Linked DNA regions of Homo sapiens. Changing the gene in region 1 together with any one later gene gives a genetic interaction. Each region holds a gene or a part of one and is shown in the gene's direction. Other genes may lie near its edges. The genes, in order: BRIP1, PBRM1 and NF1.

The links.
Region 2: changes in BRIP1 (region 1) and PBRM1 together harm fitness more than expected from each alone (negative genetic interaction), as found in Homo sapiens cells (one large-scale study listed by BioGRID).
Region 3: changes in BRIP1 (region 1) and NF1 together harm fitness more than expected from each alone (negative genetic interaction), as found in Homo sapiens cells (one large-scale study listed by BioGRID).

The regions. Positions count from the first base shown.
Region 1 is NC_000017.11:61,797,380-61,801,035, reverse strand, and holds part of BRIP1 (Fanconi anemia group J protein), read left to right. Parts: intron 1-1,736; coding exon 1,737-1,936; intron 1,937-3,656. UniProt on the Homo sapiens protein: DNA-dependent ATPase and 5'-3' DNA helicase required for the maintenance of chromosomal stability. Acts late in the Fanconi anemia pathway, after FANCD2 ubiquitination.
Region 2 is NC_000003.12:52,609,277-52,612,932, reverse strand, and holds part of PBRM1 (protein polybromo-1), read left to right. Parts: intron 1-2,341; exon of another isoform or gene 2,342-2,399; coding exon of another isoform or gene 2,400-2,415; intron 2,416-2,977; coding exon 2,978-3,620; intron 3,621-3,656. UniProt on the Homo sapiens protein: Involved in transcriptional activation and repression of select genes by chromatin remodeling (alteration of DNA-nucleosome topology). Required for the stability of the SWI/SNF chromatin remodeling complex SWI/SNF-B (PBAF).
Region 3 is NC_000017.11:31,370,821-31,374,476, forward strand, and holds part of NF1 (neurofibromin), read left to right. Parts: intron 1-3,192; coding exon 3,193-3,335; 3' UTR 3,336-3,656. UniProt on the Homo sapiens protein: Stimulates the GTPase activity of Ras. NF1 shows greater affinity for Ras GAP, but lower specific activity. May be a regulator of Ras activity.

The DNA.
Region 1 (3,656 bases):
ACTGAAGTGGGATTACAGCAGGATTTCTCTTTGCATTTATGAATATTCAAAAAGAATTATTTAGAAACATTTCTCTGAAAAAACTATGTTTTGAAGAACTTATGTGGGGGAATAAAATTATGCCTTGTGAGCTTTGAGAAGTGAACTTCAGATAATGGCATTTGTGTTTGTTTGCCTGGTTCTTTTTAGAGACATGCAATTGTTAACAGCATAAGACAAAAAGTGAATAATTTGGCATAGTCAATTGTTATTCCTGTCTTCAGATCTGACTGCACAATTCATCTCAGCTTTCTATTTCTTTAAGATCCAAATTAATAGGCATTATGTTTACTACCCCTTCTATCCTACCTCTTATTTGGTTATCTCTTAACTAGATCTCTTCCTTCTGAGACACTGTGCATATCAATGCCAGGTCAGTTTTCCAAATATTGCTTTTATTACATCCTTTTATCTGCCTAAAAATCTATTGCTTCCTTTGCTCATGAGATAAAGTTCATATTTCTTAAGCTTACACTCAAGATGCTCAATAGTCTGACCTGGATCTGCCCAATTTGAATCCTTCAAAAATTACCTCATACTCCCTTGAGGATACCTTGTTCTTTACTCTATCTTTGCTTTTGATGACACCTCTTTGGAATGCCCTGTCCACTCTTTGTCTGTCCAAATCCAAATCCTACTTATCTTTTAAACCCCAATATATTTCCTACTCTTCCATGGTTTTTTCTCAACTTTTCAGCTGTCTGTGTATTCTTACTTCCTCAAAATAACTCATTGACAATTGCTTTGTGACAGTTCCTTGTATTAGTCAGTACTCTTTCTATTGCAAGTGACACAAACCTACCCTAAAAAATGCTTAAGAAAAAATACTTGATTCTCTTTATTGTGATGGCTTTATTCTCAGGCAAGTTCTCACTCTTGCTTATGGAACAAAGATAACCATAAGCAGCTAGCTCACCTGGAGAAAAGAGCATGGCCACATATTAGTCCCTCCAAATTACTCTGGTTGGCCTACCGTGGATCACATGTCTGTTCCTGAACCTGAACCAGTCACTGTGACCACAGAAGGATGGAATACTCTATTTAACTGACAATCCTGGGCCTTACCCCCATTGTGAAAGTGGTGATGTCCTTTGATTCACAGGTTAATAGTCCTGCCAGCATCACATGGGAGTTGGAGAAGAACAATTCTCCAACTCCCATGTTGGAGAAGGATTGCAGGACAGATTAAAACAAAACATATATATTATGTTAGTATTTTAAGAGTCATTTTAATCTTGTATTGTTATTTTACTTTTAAAGGTTTTATGCTTTTAATCTTGTATTGTTATTTTACTTTTAAAGGTCTTATGCTTTTAATCTTATATTGTTATTTTATTTTTAAAGGTCTTATAATTAGTTTGTAAAATTATGTTGGAAACACTTTCATAGTGGGATTTTATACCTTTCTGTGTAGCCTGTGGTACCTTGATCCAGACTCACTGACATATTTTTGTTGCTGTCGATAGGTTTGCAAAGTATTTTAAGAGTAAAAAAATGGCAAACACAATAATGTAGAGCTGATATTTGGTTGGCCATAGTGCTTCAGAAGTTTTATTTAAGACCTAGAATCTCTGTTGCTTATGTAATTGCATTTGCAATATTGGCCTATAGTGTGAATTTTAAAATGAAATATCTTGCCTGCTGTTGTTAAATCTATTTTGCCAAATGTTTTACAAGAAAATTCTTTTATCTTATAGATGGATTTAAATCTGAAAGAACAGGTTGTCATTTTAGATGAAGCTCATAACATCGAGGACTGTGCTCGGGAATCAGCAAGTTACAGTGTAACAGAAGTTCAGCTTCGGTTTGCTCGGGATGAACTAGATAGTATGGTCAACAATAATATAAGGAAGAAAGATCATGAACCCCTACGAGCTGTGTGCTGTAGCCTCATTAAGTAAGAAGATTTGTCTATTAGTGTATTTGTGCTGCCTTTATATGAAAAATATGTTTGATTATGCCAGAGTATTTAAAGTTAGTAAACTTTGGTTAACTAGGCTTCTTGGGAAATGAATTGTTCCTTGCCAGTTAAGCTTTAAAAACAAGGCTAGTCCAACCTTTTGTCTTGTTCACAAGAATATAATGAACATAAGTGATTTTTAAAAATGAATAATTGTGAATCTTATTCCTAATTTGGCAGGATAACATAATAGCCCCGAAGGATGTGTCTAGGATATTGAACCAGAAACTAAACGTGCTTTTAATTAATATATTTTAAAATTCTGGATCATGGCTTTAATTTATTGCTTTATTCTCCAATTTAAATAGGATTCTAGTTTCATGGGTTTTAATTAATCAAGATTTCAGTACTCTAAAATAATATATTTAGTACTAGCTTTATGACAATTTACACTAATTTTTCTTTTATTAGACATTAAGTTGTTGATCTAGAATCTTGTTACCATAGAAAAAAACTTCCCAACTCTGAATCCCATTTCATTTATTGTAGCATTTTTCTGTTTCCTTCACATTTACACTTTAAAAAAATTTGAATGTTACACAGTCACATGGTTTGAAGACAAAATGTATACAAATTTGTATAGTAAAAACCTCCTTCCAGTTCCATCCCTGATCTGTTTAATGTCTGTGTTCTCCTAAACAAGTTTATCATTCAATGCATATTACTCATTTATGAACCAATATTAGATATATTTTCTTGTCCCTCACTATTTTCCAAATGATGGCATAGTATACATACATTTTTCTGCAACTTGCTTTTTTCAATTCCCAGTGTATTTTGGAGACCTTTCCATGTTAAGACCTAGAAAGCTTTCTCAGTTTAAAAAAAAAATAGATATCTAGAATTCCATTAGATAGATATGCAATAGTTTATTTAACCAGCCTCTGATTAATAGAGGAGGTTGTTTCTAGTTTTTTGCTCTTAAACTGCTATAATGAATAACTTTGAACATACATAATTTCATTTGTATGCAAATATATCTATAGGAATCTTTTTAGAAGTGGAATTGTTGGGTGAAAGCATAGACATATTTGTAATTTCAATAGATATAGCTAACATTTACACAATAGGTGGATGACAGGGGGGCTAATGTATGCTTCTACCAGCAATGTATAAGAGTATGGAAATTGTTTTCTTCTAGCCTGCTAGGTGAAAAGTGGTATCCCAATGTAGTTTTAATATTCATTTTCCTTAATATGCATGAAATTAAGCATCTTTAAAGGCCATTTATATTTCCTTTTGTGTCAACTGCCTGTTGACATCTCTGTCCTTTTTTTGTTCTTATTGTGGTTCTTTTTCTTAATGATTTATAGAACCCCATTCATATATTAGGGAATTAAAATCTTTGCCTGCAATAAGAGTTGTAAATACTTTCCACCCCATTTTGCCATTTGTGTCTTTTCTGGTGGTGTTTTGCCATGCAGATTTTTGTGGTTTTTATTTTACAGCATAACTTGTTGAAAGAGTTGTCTGTAGTTGCTAATTCTATTTTCTCACTTGACATTCTTCCCTCATCGATCTTAGCAGTGTTGCTCTCTGGACAATTCTACGCAAATTGTTTTGATCAAGATCACTAGTGATCTCTATATTGCCAAATACAGAGGTTATTGTTTCTTTTATCTCAGCCAGTCAGTGGTGTTGGGTAGTTGATGACTAC
Region 2 (3,656 bases), on another chromosome or scaffold:
TATTATACTCTTTTTTTTTTTTTTTTTGAGACGGATTCTCACTCTGTTGCCCAGGCTGGAGTGCAGTGGCACGATCTCGGCTCACTACAGACTCCGTCTCCTGGGTTCCCCCAATTCTTCTGCCTCAGCCTGCAGGGTAGCTGTAACTACAGGGACACGCCACCATGCCTAGCTAATTTTTTTGTATTTTTAATAGAGACAGGGCTTCACCATGTTGGCCAGACTGGTCTCGATCTCCTGACCTCAAGTGATCCGTCCGCCTCCGCCTCCCAAAGTGCTAGGATTACAGGCATGAGCCACCGCACCCAGCAGATTGTTATACTCTTAAACCCATGATCTAGAGCAGTCTCCTTCCTTTTCTTTCCACATGCCAGTAACTCATTGAAGAAATCAGGTCACTTTCCTGTACAGTGTCCCAAGTTCTAGGTTAGACAGGCTTGCTTCCTTGTGATATCTGTAACTTTTTTCTTTATTTCCCTTATTTCTTATAAATAGAAGTTAACTTTGAAGGTGCGATTAGATTAAGTTTCACCTTGGTGGTGATACTTTATAAGGGGTTTGCTGCCCTTATGTTGTATCATGTCTTGAGGCAGTGTCTGGTTAAAGTAGAATCCAGATAAAGTCCACATACTGCAACTGATTGATACCTCTTTTTTTTTTTTTTTTTTTTTTTTGAGACGGAATCTCGCTCTGTTGCCTAGGCTGGAGTCAGTGGCACGATCTCGGCTCACTGCAACCTCCGCCTCCTGGGTTCAAGTGATTGTCCTGCCTCAGCCTCCCAAGTAGCTGGGACTACAGGTGTGCACCACCACGCCCGGCTGATTTTTGTGTATTTTTAGTAGAGGCAGGGTTTCACCATATTGGCCAGGCTGGTCTTGAACTCCTAACCTCGTGATCTGCCCGCCTCGGCCTCCCAAAGTGCTGGGATTAAAGGTGTGAGCCACCATGCCCAGCCCGATACTTCTTTTAATCTGTAAACTCCCCTCCAGCTCTCTCTTTTTCCACCCCTTACCATTTATCTGTTGAAGAAATTAGATTTGTGCTGTAGTTTCCCATAGTCTGGGTTTTGCTGATTGCATCCATATGTTGTGGGGTTTTTTGTGTGTTTTGTGTTTTGTTTTGTTTTGTGGAGACAGGGTCTTACTCTGTCACCCAGGCTGGAGTGTAGTGGCACATTTTTGGCTCATTGCCACCTCCACCTCCCTTCTGAAGCAGTCCTTCCACTTTAGCCTCTCGGGTAGCTGGGACTACAGGTACACGCCACCACGTCCAGCTCATTTTTTTGTATTTTTAGTAGAGACAGGGTTTTGCTATGTTGCCAGGCTGGTCTTGAACTCCTGGGCTCAAGTGATCTGCCCACCTTGGCCTCCCATAGTACTAGTATTGCAGGCATGAGCCACAGCTCCTGGCCCACTATGTTGTACTTTCATGTGTTCCTCTGTCCTTTGTATTTCCTATAAATTGGTAGTTGGAGCCAGAGGCTTGATCAGATTGAGGTCTGATCCCCTGTTCTCTCCCTTAGGCAGAAAAACCGACTTCATAGGTAATATATGGTCTTCCATCAGGTACATGTGAAATCTATTTATGGCTTTCTGTTAACAGGTGTTGTTGCATACTTCATTAATTATTAATTCATGAAAGGGATGTAAAATTGTGATAGTTTTTAATTTTATTCCTTATTAGCTATAGAGAAACTTTGCCTTATCTAATATTTGATTAGCCAGTGGTACAGTGTTTTTTTTGTGTGTGTCTTGCTTTTTGAAAGGATAAAGGCTTGATTTTTGTTTTATTTTGTTTTCACCTTTACCAGTTTTCAAAATATGTATTGGTTTACTAACATCCTTCAATATTTACCCATTTTGTTGTTTGTTTGTACGTATTATTAAGAACTACCAGACTTAAACATATGGCTGAGTTGTAATTGAAGTTATTGTCCTTATTGATACTCAGGCTGGTTCAGGCTCGTTCCTGTATTCTTTTTGTTTTGTTTTTTTGAGACAGAGTCTCGCTCTGTCGCCCAGGCTAGAGTGTAATGGCTTGATCTCAGCTCACTGCAACCTCTACCTCCTGGGTTCAAGCAATTATCCTGCCTCAGCCTCCCGAGTAACTGGGATTACAGGCGCCACCACCACACTCGGCTAATTTTTTGTATTTTTAATGGACACAGGGTTTCGCCATGTTGGCCAGGTTGATCTTGAACTCCTGACCTCAGGTGATCCACCCACCTTGGCCTCCCAAAGTGTTGGGATTACAGGCATGAGCCACCACGCCCAGCCGGTTCCTATATTCTATTGACATGAAGTCATGGTAAGAAGTCATTGATAGATTCTTTACTGTCTAGTGTTTGAAGATATACCAGACTGGGAATCAGCCATTTACCAAGGAGCCCTACCTTTTTCATGTTTCTGCTGAAAGGTGAGGGCTCCTCAACATTACTATTTGGAATTAGTATTTTAAAACTCTAATGTGGGCTATACTGCTACTGAGGTAGTCATTGTTTGTACGATTTTCAGTGGACAGAGCTAGGAAATTTGTGTGTTTGTTTGTATGTTTATATTTAAAGATAAATTACATCATAAGTTCATAGTGATACTTTCAATTGAGATTAAAGGCCTCAAGGTAATTATTAATGTCCTACGTTTTAACATCCGTTATCTCTTTTTATCCCATGATGAAAATCTCAGTTCTCCAGGATACCAGAGGTGATAGAATGTCACATAGCTACTCATTTGCTTTATTCCTTCTTATTCACAGCTTTCTCAACCTTACAGTAGTCTCCCATCAAAAATATAATTACTGAAAACAGTTAAAAAAAATTTTTAGTACTTTTTTGTCTGCAGGTTATATTTCACTATAGACATGCTAATTGCTAGATTTTACAAATTACTTGGAATCGTCCCTTGTGGTTATGCTACCATCTGTATACAAATTTAGGTTCATTTATTTTATTCATTTAACATTAAATATCTCTCTTTAGGTAGGAAGAGTGGCATTTCTCCTAAAAAATCAAAATACATGACTCCAATGCAGCAGAAACTAAATGAGGTCTATGAAGCTGTAAAGAACTATACTGATAAGAGGGGTCGCCGCCTCAGTGCCATATTTCTGAGGCTTCCCTCTAGATCTGAGTTGCCTGACTACTATCTGACTATTAAAAAGCCCATGGACATGGAAAAAATTCGAAGTCACATGATGGCCAACAAGTACCAAGATATTGACTCTATGGTTGAGGACTTTGTCATGATGTTTAATAATGCCTGTACATACAATGAGCCGGAGTCTTTGATCTACAAAGATGCTCTTGTTCTACACAAAGTCCTGCTTGAAACACGCAGAGACCTGGAGGGAGATGAGGACTCTCATGTCCCAAATGTGACTTTGCTGATTCAAGAGCTTATCCACAATCTTTTTGTGTCAGTCATGAGTCATCAGGATGATGAGGGAAGATGCTACAGCGATTCTTTAGCAGAAATTCCTGCTGTGGATCCCAACTTTCCTAACAAACCACCCCTTACATTTGACATAATTAGGAAGAATGTTGAAAATAATCGCTACCGTCGGCTTGATTTATTTCAAGAGCATATGTTTGAAGTATTGGAACGAGCAAGAAGGATGAATCGGTATGTTTTCAAAGCCATTTTTATTTTGAGGATATG
Region 3 (3,656 bases), about 30 Mb from region 1:
CCTGCATGCGGGCCAGCTCCAAGTTGTTTCAAACCTTTGTCTTTTTAAGGTCCTAGTTTTGCCTGAATCTTATTTTCTATTAAAGAAACAACTCAGAATTACTGGACTTGAAACTTGTAGGCCAAATGCAAATTTGAGGAAATGGAAGGTCAAATACGCTGACAAATTCATAATTTTAAGTGGAGGATGCCAAAGGGAAAAAAAAAAGTTCTATCTTTTCAACTAAAAATATTATACCACTCTCTGGAGATCAGGGATTGCATGCTTTGGGGCTCTGAATTACAGGTATCTAGCTATCACATTTTAAAATGGAAGTGTTCAGTTCATTCAGTATTAATTGAAAATAATTTTTCAATGTATTGAAAAAATAACTAGATTTTACAGGAAAACAAAAATGAATAATAATGATCTTTACCCTTCTCAGTGCCTTTACTCAGTAGAGGAAGATGGATGTACAAGTTGTAGAATCATAGGCAAGTTAATTTAAAAGCAAGGAAGGAGAAAGTAGTTCTGGCAAGAGACAGAATAATGCATCATGAAGGAAAAGGATATGAGAAAAAAAAATATGGGTTGAATTTTATCTTGTAGAGATACGCAAGACAATTAAAAGAGCCTACACAAACATACATCCCAAAGAAGCTCAAGGCACATTCCAGAGATCATGAGCAGCTTTCTTTCAGTTTTGTTATTTCTTTTGTAAATAGCTCTGGAGAGGATGCAAATAAATATACAGAAGAGAATTTAAATAGACCAGAATTCTGTTACCCAGAGAAAAGTTCCATGAATGTTTCTAGTCATCTTTCTATGCATATGATTAGATTAGATTAGATTAGAACATGACTAGCCTTAAAAAATTTAATAAGGGTTTTAAAAAAGATTTGAATAGAACAGATTTTCAGTGGTGGTTCAGCTATGCTCACCTCCTGGAGAAATGTCGCTGATGTTTTTCCTTGCACTCATATGCCTGATGCAGTGCACATGTTCATAAACAGTCACTGACAAATGCCCATGTTCCTTTGACAGCAGTTCAGATTTTCAAGACAGCAAATCTCTGTTGAGCACGTGTAAACCAGGCCACGTGCTTACAGATGCCTGATACTCTTGAGTCGAATTCAGAGCTGAATCCAAATGAAAGATGAGTGGCTCCTAGAGGGAGGTCATCCCAAGTTCATTTCCTGTTCATGAGCCAACAAATAACTAACTGGGTAGATCTATGTACATTTTCTGTAACATAATGAATACTTCTTGACTTGAAATATTACTTTTTGTCCAAAAATGGAAATTTTTCTATTCTAAGATTTAAAATTTCAATATATAAAGAAGAATAAAGTACAAATTAGCTGAAATCTTGCCATACAGAGGTAAAATATATTTTTTAGTCCTTTGGCTTCTGACAGAGATAAAATATTTTGGCAGATGTTTACCCAGCCCTACGCCCTCTCCCCACAGTGTGTGGGTGTTTTTTTCCTACTCCAAAAATTGTGGTCATCTTTTTGTATCAGTAAATATCAATCAGTAATGTACATTTTGATACAAATTACTAAAACGTTCTGCAGCTGTTTGCTTTCCCGCCAAAATTTATGCCAGCAGTAAGTATAATCAGTCTAATTTTGGGGGTAAATTTTATTGATGTTTAACAGAAAAGTTCACAAATTGCAAGTTTTCAGCTTAGTGAACTTTTAAAATGTAAACACACTTGAAAATCCATCATCTACATCAAGAAACAGAACATTACCAGCATCCCAAGAAGCCATCCTCATGCCCCCTTAAGTCACTACTTCCGCAAGGGTGACCACAGTCCTGTTACCCAATTTGTAATCTTTCCTAATGTGATAGATAAAAATAAAAATCTTATTTTAGTTTCTGGTTACTTTTCTGAAGTTACTGCTTAGATTATTTATAATATTAATTGGGGTGGGGTGCAGTGGCTCATGCTTGTAATCCCAGAACTTTGAGAGGCCAAGATGGAAGGATTGCTTGAGACCAGGAGTTCAAGACCAGCCTTGGCAACATAGTGAGACTCTATCTCTAGACAGAATTTTAAAATTAGCTGGGCATGGTGGCATGCACCTGTAGTCCTAGCTGTTTGGGAGGCTGAGGCGAGAGGATAGCTTGAGCCTGGAAGTTCAAGGTTATAGTGAGCTATGATCACACCACTGCACTGCAGCCTGTGCAACAGGGCAAGACCCTGTCTCTAAATAAATAATCAATCATTGTTAGGCCCAGGTTTTGGAGGTTTAATCTCCTCCTCAAGAGAAATAAATGGCATCTGTTTAAGGTTGCAGAATGTGAAATGACTTGGCATAGCTGAAAAGAAGCAAAGATTCTACAGTATGACCTTTGTGATATATTATTTTCTCAGTAAATAGTTTCTTTGGGATAGGCACTGTGATTAAAAAAATAAAAGCATCTTGAGTTTTCTTTGAAGTGACAAATTTGCTGGAAAGATCAGTACTTTCTGCTGCTGGAGAGTATATTCTGTTTATAAACATGAATGAGGATGTGAATAAGGCTAGAAGATGACCTCTGCTGGAAGTTTCTGGTATGATTTGGAGGAAGGAGCACTAGTCTTCCCTGGTGGCTGCTAGCCTTTCATTTAGTTCAAGCCTGCCAGCCTCTAGCTTTTCCTTGCAACTTGTCTTTTCATTTTTCTTGTGCTATTTTCTGCTATGATAGCAAACTTTGCATAACAAAATGTGAAGTTTTCCATGTGACATTAACTTAGTAAACATTTTAGCAATTGACTATTAAAATGAAATGTGCATAAACAATTTGCCAGGTTGTATCTTATCACAAATATAGTCATGTGCTGCATAACAACATTGCAGTCAACAACAGAACACATATAGACAGTGGTCCCGAAAGATTATAATACTGTATTTTTACTGTACCTTTTCTGTGTTAGATATACAAATAGTTAGCATTGTGTTACAACTACATAAAGTACACAATATGGTAACCTGCTGTACAGGTTTGTTGCCTGGGAGAAACAGGCTATACCATATAGCCTTGGTGTGTAGTAGGCTATGCTATCTAAGTTCATGTAAGTACACTCCACAATATTTGCACAGACAAAATCGCCTAATGATTGTTTCCTAGAATGTGTCCCCGTTGTTAAGCGACACATGACTGCAATGAAATTCAGTCCTGGAAGGAAAAGAAGAAGTAACTGGCTGTTCTCTTTTTCTCCAGGAATCGACAAGGAGAACGTTGAACTCTCCCCTACCACTGGCCACTGTAACAGTGGACGAACTCGCCACGGATCCGCAAGCCAAGTGCAGAAGCAAAGAAGCGCTGGCAGTTTCAAACGTAATAGCATTAAGAAGATCGTGTGAAGCTTGCTTGCTTTCTTTTTTAAAATCAACTTAACATGGGCTCTTCACTAGTGACCCCTTCCCTGTCCTTGCCCTTTCCCCCCATGTTGTAATGCTGCACTTCCTGTTTTATAATGAACCCATCCGGTTTGCCATGTTGCCAGATGATCAACTCTTCGAAGCCTTGCCTAAATTTAATGCTGCCTTTTCTTTAACTTTTTTTCTTCTACTTTTGGCGTGTATCTGGTATATGTAAGTGTTCAGAACAACTGCAAAGAAAGTGGGAGGTCAGGAAACTTTTAACTGAGAAATCTCAATTGTAAGAGAGGATGAATTCTTGAA